2 separate regions of the Homo sapiens genome follow, and region 2 is linked to region 1. A link means that fine-mapping ties the variant in region 1 to the plasma level of a protein whose gene starts in the linked region. Region 1 holds a variant in brackets. A gene starts in the other region. All regions are shown on their forward strands.

What was found. PIP is the posterior inclusion probability: the model's chance that the variant is causal. Protein levels are from antibody-based Olink assays in UK Biobank. Linkage for the fine-mapping came from a reference panel and not from the study's own genotypes, which makes the PIPs less certain.
Region 2: it holds the start of GAL, and the variant in region 1 is fine-mapped to the plasma level of the GAL protein (UK Biobank, PIP above 0.99).

Annotation. Positions count from the first base shown.
Region 1 is chr3:12,001,902-12,007,272 of GRCh38, forward strand. SYN2 (synapsin II) reads left to right here and starts at 2,487. Exons shown (of 13, transcript NM_133625.6): 1 at 2,487-3,027. The coding sequence starts at 2,651. RefSeq lists an enhancer at 3,186-3,686. The variant C/T (reference allele first, on the strand shown) is at 3,045.
Region 2 is chr11:68,679,458-68,684,767 of GRCh38, forward strand. GAL (galanin and GMAP prepropeptide) reads left to right here and starts at 5,087. Exons shown (of 6, transcript NM_015973.5): 1 at 5,087-5,275. The region is part of intron 2 of LOC107984343 (a long non-coding RNA gene); the gene reads right to left. RefSeq lists enhancers at 3,806-4,481, 5,158-5,310.

The DNA of each region.
Region 1 (5,371 bases):
TTCATTAGAGATACATGCCTTTGATGGCCGGACGTGGTGGCTCATGCCTGTAATCCCAGCACTTCGGGAGGCTGAGGCGGGCAGATCACCTGAGGTCGGGAGTTTGAGACCAGCCTGACCAACATGGAGAAACCCCATCTCTACTAAAAATACAAAATTAGCTGGGCATGGTGGTGCATGCATGTAATCCCAGCTACTCAGGAGGCTGAGGCAGGAGAAATGCTTGAACCCGGGAGGCGGAGGCTGTGGTGAGCTGAGATCGTGCCATTGCACTCCAGCCTGGGCAATAAGAGCGAAACTCCATCTCAAAAAAAAAATTTTTTTTTAAGAAGGGCAATAATTAAGTTTATTTAATTATGTTATTAGTGACTTATCAGTTTTATTCTCCAATAAACACAAAAACCGAGTTGGGTAAGATTACAGTTCAATTCTCAAACAACTGAGTCCTTATTACATGCCAGGTCCTGTGTTTGGTGTGAAGCCCAAAGATAACTAAGACATAATCCTGTCCTAGAAAAGCTTACATTCTAGTCACCAGAATATTGTATGATAGTTTCTTTGGGGTCTATGACAAAGCCAAGCACAGGATATGGAACACTTAGCCCGCCCTGGAGGATTGACGAAAGGCTTCCTGGAGGAACCATCAACTTACATACCTTCTCCATGCCTTCTCTGGCTGCCTGCCTGCCTGCCTTCTTCACTTTTCTACTGGTAAACATAGCTGCCTCAAGATCCACCTCAAATGTCACCTCCTCTGAGAGGCCTTCCTAAGTCTCAGAGGCAGAATGAGTCCCTCCCTCCTTAGGCCTCCTAACCCTCTTTGCCCAACTGTATGATAGCATTTCTCACATCTTATGTGGTTCCTGTGTCTATCCTCCCTCCATCCCCCAGCCCACATAGATCATGAACTTGCAATAGACAAGAGCCACTTCCCATTCATTTCAGCCTTTCCAGCTCTTACCACTGTGCCAAGCATGTAGTAGATAGGAAGACCACTGTGTTATTATAGTTGACTGGAGACTTCTCTGATAGCACCGGCTCAGAGCTGGATTGTGTATCTCTAGGCCCTGAGTTGAGTGCCAGCTGGGATACAGGAAGCAAGAACTGCCCACCAACATTAGTGACAAGCCACTCCCTGACTCCATTCAGCCCAGTACATACTTACTGAGAACCAATTGAAAAAAGAATTCAGGCATCACTACTGGAATACCTACTGCTGTGTACCAGATGCTTTACATACATGATCTCATTTACTCCATGTAACAACTCTGGAAAGGGTTACTTATTCCTTTTTATCAGCTAAGGAGAGAGGCTCACAGGGGTTATTGATCCAGGGTCACATATCACCCGGGGTAGTCTGCTGTAAAGCCTATCTGCTGTGTCCTGCTCCATTACAACACAAGGGAAAGTATATCTAATGAGAGATGAAAACTAAAGGTCCAAGAGTCACGCAAGATTTAGAGAGTGCACATGGGAAGGTGGCCATCAGAAATGTCTTCACAGAGGTCAAGGCAACGAATAAAATGGAAAAAACAAGTAGAAAGATCTTGAAGAGATGTCCTTCTTGGTATAGCACTGGATGCATCAATGCATGCTAGGAAAGAAACACGGTGGGGTTGGGGGATCCTTAGATATCCCTCTTGGGGTGGAGACCATGTCTCCAGTCTTCTCTTGGTTTTCTCTCACTGGTCAGTGAGGAGGGGGAGAGAAGTACATACTGTTGTTGTCCCTAGAAGTGCAGGAGTGAAAACACACCCCACCCCTCCTTCCATGACAGAGTAGAGAGGATCTGTTTCTCCCCTTTCCTCTCCCTCGCCTTGGAGTAAGGAGGCTGCCTTCCTCCCTAGAAGAGGTATTTCTTTTTTGTCTCACCATAGGGTGTGTGTGTGTGTGTGTGTGTGTGTGTGTGTGTGTGTGCGCGCGCGCGCGCGCGTGTGTGTGTGTGTGTGTTAGTAACAGCGGATTATTCCCTTCCCCCTCTTCTGGGGGCTGGGGAGATGACATCTTTCTCCCCAGCGTTGGGAAAGGAGGTGGTTCTTTTCCTCCTCACTACAGGGTGTTCGTGCTTGTGTGCGTGTGTGCGCGCGTGATTGGGATGACTCCTTTCGTTCTCACCTCCGCATAGGGAGGCTGACACCTCTTATCCTTCCAAAAGGAGTGGGGTCGGTTTCCTTCGCCTCCATTTCAGCTGGGACACGGCTCTTTTTCTCTCCAACCAAAAAGATGGTGGGGCCTCTGGTTCCTTTTCCTTCCCCTGGGGAGAAGGCCTGGCTCCCACGCCCTCCCCGCATAGTCACGCTCAGGTTGCTGGAGGCCTGGGTCGCCCCCTCCTGCAAGCCCCGAGAGTCGCCAGACGCGCGGCTAGGTGCCCTCCGTGAGCGGGGCGGGGCCGCCTCTGCGGCGCGGGGCGGGGGCTATCTCTGGCCCCGCCCCTGCCCCGCCCGCTCCCTCTCCGCGAGCCTCGCGCCGCGCGGGTTGCCTGGCCCAGACCGCCGCTGCTGTCTGCGGGGTCTGGTGCCGGGGCCTGAGTCTCTGCTGGCTAAGCCGCCGCCTCAGCCGCCTCAGTCGCCTCAATCTCGCCTTCCGCCCTCGCTCTCCCTCCGCGCCACCAGACCCCGTAGCCCCGCGCGCCCCCAGCCCTTTAAGCCAGATGATGAACTTCCTGCGGCGCCGGCTGTCGGACAGCAGCTTCATCGCCAACCTGCCCAACGGCTACATGACCGACCTGCAGCGGCCCGAGCCCCAGCAGCCGCCGCCGCCGCCGCCCCCCGGTCCGGGCGCCGCCTCGGCCTCGGCGGCGCCCCCGACCGCCTCGCCGGGCCCGGAGCGGAGGCCGCCGCCCGCCTCGGCGCCCGCGCCGCAGCCCGCGCCGACGCCGTCGGTGGGCAGCAGCTTCTTCAGCTCGCTGTCCCAAGCCGTGAAGCAGACGGCCGCCTCGGCTGGCCTGGTGGACGCGCCCGCTCCCGCGCCCGCAGCCGCCAGGAAGGCCAAGGTGCTGCTGGTGGTCGACGAGCCGCACGCCGACTGGTAGGTGCCGGGCGCCG[C/T]CGCCCTCGGGGGTCGGGGTCCGCCGGCAGCCGCAGGCCAGGAGAGGACGGTCCCAGGTCGCCGAGGAAACGTTTCAGACCAATAAAAAGGAGGGTCCCCGAGGTCCCGCTGGGAGGAGGTGCGGGCTGAGCGCGCGCGCGTTTGCGGGGTGAGGGAGGGCATCCATCAGCCCGGAAAGGCGAACCCAAAGCTAAAATACCCCTCAATTGCCCCAGGTCCCCCAGGTCCCATACAAGAAGGAGCTACTTTATGCAACAGGAAAGGCCCTTAGGAAATAGTTTTTTTGGGGGTAGAGGAGGGGACACACTTGTTAGCTTAGACACATAAAATCTGAAGTGAAATAGTCCCAGGAGGCCGAAGGAACATTTAGGGCCAGTAAAAAAGGTTTAACTTCATGAAGCACGGAGTGAATTTGGAATGGAAATTGGTATTTTGGAGGGAGAAGGTGGTGGTGGGTTTTTTTTAACCAGGACCCATGAAGGCTGATATCAAGTATTGACATCAGGTTGATGAAATCACACATGTAGTGGCCCAGGTGTACACGGGCTTGTTCCCCGGAGCATGGCTGAAGTCTCTTTATGAATAATAAAATTGTTGTATTTTGTGCAGCAGGGAGGGGACGTGTGGAATTTTTTTTTTTTTTTTTTGATTGCTTGTTTTTCTGAAATGTGCGTGGTGGGGGGCGGGGCGTGGAAGTGAATGGTAGCTTTTTCTAGCTGAAAGATGAAGACCTTGGTAAAATATACTGGATCATTAAAGGGGTACAAATAAAAGGAGACCTGCCTTAATGTAGTAGATGGGAAACTTCAATAATTTTTTTTTTCTTCTAAAGAGATAGGTAGCATGTTTCCAACTTAGAATGGTGAAGGCTGCTGCTTGGTAAAAGTACGAATGAGGTCCACTGAAGACAAATTAGTTAAAAGCGGCTCTATTTTATAGTTAACCTAGGGAATGGTGGGATGGTGAAATTGATAGGTGAAGGGCTTGGAGAAATGAAGAGGCCGAGAATCTGGGGGTGCCTTTTCTCCAGGAATGTGAGCAAGGGTTTTGTTTTTTTTTTTTTCTCATAGGGGTTGAGGTTGGAGACTGGACCTGAGTGTTCTTCCCAGGAGGGGTGCACAGAGAGACCACAGAGCTATTTCTCTCCATTTCCTCTTTTGGCTGCTTCACTGCTTTCTCTCTCTAGCATTCTCTCTTTGGGAGACCCAGAGGGAGGGAGTGCTGGCGTGTGGGTGTGGTGGAAATGAGATGCAGATGTGGAGATGCCCTCCTGCTGGCTGCTAATGTCACCATTCTGAATAGTCCTTTGGGTGACTTATGTGGTTGGCCTTTTCAAGAGAGTAGAGTAGAAAATCCGAAAGGACTTTTGCCAGGAAATGACAAAGGCACATGGAAGAGGGTAATGGGGAAAGTGTAATGCATATGATAGTGCCACTGGCAGCCCTCCTTAGAATTACTCTGACTCAGTTCATATCAACAAGTGCTTATTACGGAGGAAGGGAAGGTAACCAAGCTAGTAAAGGTGCTCAGTCAGAGCATCCATTATATGCCAAATGCTGTACTCTCAGCATGATATCTCATTGCATTTTCTTCACAAAACTGAGGCTTAGGAAAGGTAAGTAATATGTTTACAATCATGTAGCCAGCAAGTGGTAGAAGCAGGATTTGAACTTAGGCCTGTTTGACTCCACTGCTTTCATTCCACTGTGTTATATTGCCTCACTATTATTATTAGCAATATTAATAACAAGCTCCCTCTAGGCAGTGTGGGGGCCTTTTAAGAGAACTCACTCAAATTGGGACACAAAGTGGATACATGAAACAGTTAAAAAGAAATCTAGAATTATTGGTTGAGACTAGTGTTTCAGGCAGTCAACAAATGGAGTGGTTAGTGAGAGCCAGAGTTATTGGAGAAAGCTTCACAAAAGATGAATCTTGAAGAAAGGCCAAGAAAAGGAAGAGGAGAAATGAGAATGACATTCGTGCTTTATTTTTCTGTGCAGGAATTTGACCCTTCTGTACCTTGTCCTGATTTCTTATCCTATTAAATGCACTTGTTTTGAGTCTTATTGCCAGTTAGGTATCTATAGATAGGTACTGATACTTATTTGTATGGGTATGATGAAGCTGCTGCAGATTTCTGTTTAGTTATAAATGCTTCTGTAGCTTAAGATTTGAAACTCTCTTTGGATAGTATTCTCTAGGAAGCCTATTTGGCATAAACTAGAGAATTTGCCTTGCCCTGGAGACTAGAAGCCTCTGATGGAAGTCATAGAAGCCACTTTCCCGTGGGCTGACTCCCAACTGTTTTCCTATTTTCTCTGAA
Region 2 (5,310 bases), not on the chromosome of region 1:
GGAGGTGGTGTACCCTCTCACGTGTTTTTATTCATTCATTCATTCATTCATCAAACATTTGTTGACCACTGTGAAACTGATTGGAACAATTCCTACCGCACGTGATGGAAAACCTCTATGGGCCATTGGCTTAAATAAGAGAGATGCTTCTTCTCCTCTGTTGTGAAACAAGCCTGGAAGTGTGCAGCCCAGGGACCAGGCTCAGGGTCACTGGGACCCAGGCTCCCTCGGCCTTGATGTGTCACCTGAAGCCATCACCTCATGGTCCAAATTCGTTGCCCACCTCCAGCCTTCACGTCCACACTCCAGGCAGCAGGAAGAAGGAATGGAAAAGGACCAAAAAGGGGGCGTACCCATGTAACCCCCTCCACCTGGAGTGTGCTGGACCTCATTCTGTACCCAGTCAGTCCTGCTCACCTGTCAGGTTCAGCTCCCCTAATCCATGCATCTCCTTCCCACGACAATGGGGTGGTTATTTGTACAATAACCATTTGTTGCATACAGTTGGCCCTCCATGTCCACAGTGGGTTGGTTCCAGGAAACCCCTGGCCACGCAAATACCGAAATCCGTGGATGCTCAAGTCCCTTATATAAAATGGCATAGTATTTGCATATAACCTACGCACATCTTCCCATATGCTTTATTTTTAATTTAACTTTTTTATTTTTGAGATGAAGTCTCACTCTGTCACCCAGATGCTGGAGTGCAGTGGCGCCGTTTCGGCTCACTGCAACCTCTGCCTCCCGGGTTCAGTTGTACAAGTGATTCTCCTGCCTCAGCGTCCCGAGTAGCTGGGATTACAGATGTCCGCCACCACATCTGGCTGAGTTTTTGTATATGTAGTAGAGAGAGGGTTTTGGCATGTTGGCCAGGCTGGTCTCGAACTCCTGACCTCAAGTGATCTGCCCGCCTCGGCCTCCCAAAGTGTTGTGATTACAGGCATAAGCCACCGCGATGGCCCTCCCACATGCTTTAAATCATCTCTAGATTACTTATAATACTGAGTATAATGTAAATGCTACATGAATAGTTGTTATACCGTATTGTTTAGGAAATAATGACAAGGAAAAAAGTCTGTACGTATTCGTACAGAGAAACCCATCCTAGGCCTACCTACAAGGACCCAGTCCATAGTGGGTTGAACCCACAGCCAGGGAACTCACAGATACAGAGGGGCCAACTGTAATGGGTCTCCGTGAGGGTCTAACTCCGCAAGGGCAGGGACCCTGCTGCTGATTTCACCACTGCAGCTCCACTGCCAGGCAATGGACGGTTGAGCTCCCGTGCAGTGGGCATGGCCCAGGTGACCCTTGACCCTTGCTTGAGTTCTCAGCTTCAGGGTGGTTTTTCCTGGTGGTGGACAGCGCTTCTAAGGAAGATGGGCTGGCTCGAAGGCAGCGGGGGACATCAGGCTTTCTGCTTGATTTCGATTACTCTAATGGTGACCCACTTTGTCTGCTGCACACTGGGCTGTCTTCAAGATGACAGGTTGACAATGACTGCCATTGGGTCATTACTGAGCAAAGAGCCATTAGCACACTGGCTGTGGTTCCAGCACAGTCTGTGCCGGGAGGCAGGTGTCTGTCATCCCAGGTGTGCTGGCCTCATTTGTCTGAAGGAATCTGCCGACCTCAGGAAACCCCAGCACGCCTTCAGGCCACTGCCTTGCTTGTCTGTAGCCTTCCCATGGTCACCGCACTTCCGGGCCAGGGTCCCAGCCAGGGTTTATACCGAGACCCACTCACCCAGACTAAGCGGGAAGCAAGACGGTGGGTGTCATCCCACGTGGAAAAAGAACTTAGGGACCTGGAGGAATCAGGCATGGGCATGTTTATTTTGAATACATGTGTCTAATTATTCAATGGAGCTTTCTTAAATGAATTCAAAATACATGTGAAGATTTGTTTCCAGTTGCTTAATGTCTTTTTAATAAGGAGGCTCTGACCAGATAACCTACCCTGAAATTTCTTTTTCGTTTGTTTTTTGTTTTTTGTTTTTCGAGACGGAGTCTCGCTCTGTCACCCAGGCTGGAGTGCAGTGGCACGATCTAGGCTCACTGCAAGCTCCGCCTCCTGGGTTCACGCCATTCTCCTGCCTCAGCCTCCCAAATAGCTGGGACCACAGGCGCCTGCCACCACTCCCGGCTAATTTTTTGTATTTTTGGTAGAGACGGGGTTTCACCATGTTAGCCAGGATGGTCTCGATCTCCTGACCTTGTGATCCACCCGCCTTGGCCTCCCAAAGTGCTGGGATTACAGGCATGAGCCACCGCACCCGGCCTGAAATTTATTTTTCTTTTTTTCCTTTCTCTTTCCTCACTTTCCTTCCTTCTCTTTTCTTCTTCTCCTTCTCCTCCTCGTCCTCCTCCTTCTTCTTCTTCTTTCTTCTTCTTCCCTTCTCTCTCTCTCTCTCTCTCTCTCCCTCCCTCCCTCCTTCTTTCTTTCTTGACAGAGACTTGCTCTGTTGCCTATGCTGGAGTGCAGGCTTGATCGTGGCTCACTGTAGCCTCAACCTCCTGGGCTCAGGTGATCCTCCCACCTCAGCCTCCTGAGCTGAGTAGCTGGGACTACAGGCACGTGCCATCATGCTTGGCTGATTTTTAAAAAATATTTATTTATTTATTTTTAGTAGAGATGAGGCCTTGCTATGTTGCCCCAGCTGGTCTTGGACTCCAGGGCTCAAGTGATCTATCTACTCACCTCAGCCTCCCAAAATGCTGGGATTACAAGCGTGAGCCACTGCGCCCAGTCTGAAGTTTCTTTGAAAGCAAAAAAGGAAACAAAAAGAGTACATAGGCCCAAATGAAGACAGCTGAAAGTTTAATGTACCTCAAATTCCAGCCCATGACTAAGGGATGGACTTTGAGTCTCTTTTCGAATCCATCTCAAGGATTTAGGTTTAGAGTTTGTGCTCCTTTAAACAGACTAAGAGCCTCTGTGACAAAGTAAATAGAGAAAATAAGTGTAGTCAAGCTCTGGCAGGATTTGGAAGGGGGCCTAACGTGGAAGAAAGGAGAAGGCTGGAATTGACTAAGATGTGCTATGCACTGGGCTGGATTTGTTCTCAGCAGAAAGCAAGAAAGAGCTCTGGGATGGTAGCAGGGCTCCCACTACCACCGGGGGCCAAAGGTTGCAGTATTTCTCAGGTAGCCAAGAGGCACCCATGAGCCCAGCCCCTGCCCACTCCCTGATGTCATCTAGACACAAGGACATGGGGCATGAGAGGACATCATTGTCACTTCTCTGCAGAGTCACAGGAACGTGCCCTCTGCTCCTCCGCCTCTCGGCTGTCCTTCTGCCCACGGCTGGCCCAGACTCTCATGGCGACTCACTGTCTCCCACGCCCCCACTCCCGGCAGGAAACCACTTCAGGGTTTACTGTGGGCTCCGAAATCAGCCTGTGAGTCCTAGTTAGGGTCCCCTGTGCCTGACTCTCCTCTCCCCAGGCTGCAAGAAATAGGGATGACCAGAAGTCAAACTGTGCCCTTGGGAACACCCCACCCCTCACCACTGTCGTGCCAGGAGTCTGTTCCTAAGACCCCTCCCCAAGTCCTGTCTCCTCCTCTTCCTCCCATAAACCACAGCAGACACTCAGCCACCAGGCTGCAGCCCTGCACCTTCTCCAGCAGCCGCTGGCCTTCGCCAGAGTTCTTGAAAGCCCAGTTGTCCTTCCCCAGCCACGTGGAGGCAGACGGATCTCTCCTGGGGGCAGCCTGTAGCTGTCTGTGCAAAGGTTCCCAAGACTAAAGTGTAGAGGACAGGTAAGATGACACTGTCATGATCATCATTCGTCCTGTGCCCTGTGGACATCAACCCACAGATGTGACATCAACCCATCTGATATTGAGCCCAGTGGGTGGGGAGATCCTAACCCAGCTGCTGCTGTTGAGGACTTGGGTGGTGTCTGGCCAGTGGGAGGGGAGGTCAGGCGAGTTTTCAGCAGATGACCCCGTGCTCTTCGGAAGCCCGGAGGTGCCACACTGTACAAGTGTGATGCCTGGGATCCTGTGCTCCCCTGATGCCTGGGAATGGGGTGAAGGAACAGCCTAGGCTTGGGTTCTCTCCTGGGTTGTTTCGGGACTTGGCCCCAGCTCAGGAAGGGTTTGTGGAGGAGCCAAGGAGGGCCTTGTTCCTGTGGGATGTCTTTGCCTTGGGCACAAGGACAGCCTCTTGCTGCTGCTCTGCCCACCGCCCACCCCTTGGCGGCCTCTGGGAGTCTGGGCTGCTCTCCCTCTGGACCTAACCAGTTGCCCAATGGCTGGACCTGCTTAAAGCTCCCTCTTACAACTGGACCAGGCAGCCAGGGGAGGCACTGAGAGGCCGAGCTTCTGAGCTGGTGCCTGTGGATGCTCGACGGTCCCGCAGCTCCCACAATGGGATGGCCAAGCAGACCCTGAGATCCACAGCCCCCCTTTAGTGAAACAGGAGGGAGGTCGCTGGGCACAGGGAGCCGGGAACGCCTGCCCTCCCCGCCATCGACGGCTCCCGAGGCCTGAACCTTCGCTCCAGCCCCAGCACAAGCCGGCCAGGGCGCAGGGCCAAGTGTTGCCCGCCATTCCCCGGGTACCCCATGACCTCCCAGCTGGGGCTGGCTCGGACTGAGGAGTCGTCCCTGCCCGTCACCCTCTGGGGTCTCCAGTGCTGCGGAGCTCAGCTGGCTTTTGCAGCGGTAGGGGCTGGGAGGAGAAGCTGCAGGGAGACCGCAGGCGTGGGACGTTGTGGGGGGTCAGGCTTGCTCTGGGGCTGGGACCCCGGGGGGAGCAGTGGGGTTGACGCCACAGCGATGACTTGGGCCACGGGTCTGGGGGCTCTCCCGCGGGGCGATTGGGCTCTGTCTTTCGGGATTAGGGTCTCTCCCACAGGGTTTGGGGTTCTCTCTGCAGATTTGGGGGAGTCTCTCCCGCGGGATGAGGGGGGGCTCTCCGCCGCACCCGCCTATGATGGCCCAGAGGACCCGAGCTCGGGTCACTCCCGTCGCCCTCGGGGCTCGGCGAGGGTGCAGGAGGCGGGCGCTGAGCCGGTGACGCGACTCCGGGCGGCTCCCGGGTGCGCCGCATATATAGCAGCGGCGGCGGTGGCGGCGGCCACACCGGGCGGCGGACACGTGGAGGGACCCGGCCCGCGCCTTCTGCCCCTGCTGCCGGCCGCGCCATGCGGTGAGCGCCCCAGGCCGCCAGAGCCCACCCGACCCGGCCCGACGCCCGGACCTGCCGCCCAGACCCGCCACCGCACCCGGACCCCGACGCTCCGAACCCGGGCGCAGCCGCAGCTCAAGGTACTACTGGCGCCGGGCCGACCCTGCGCCCCCGG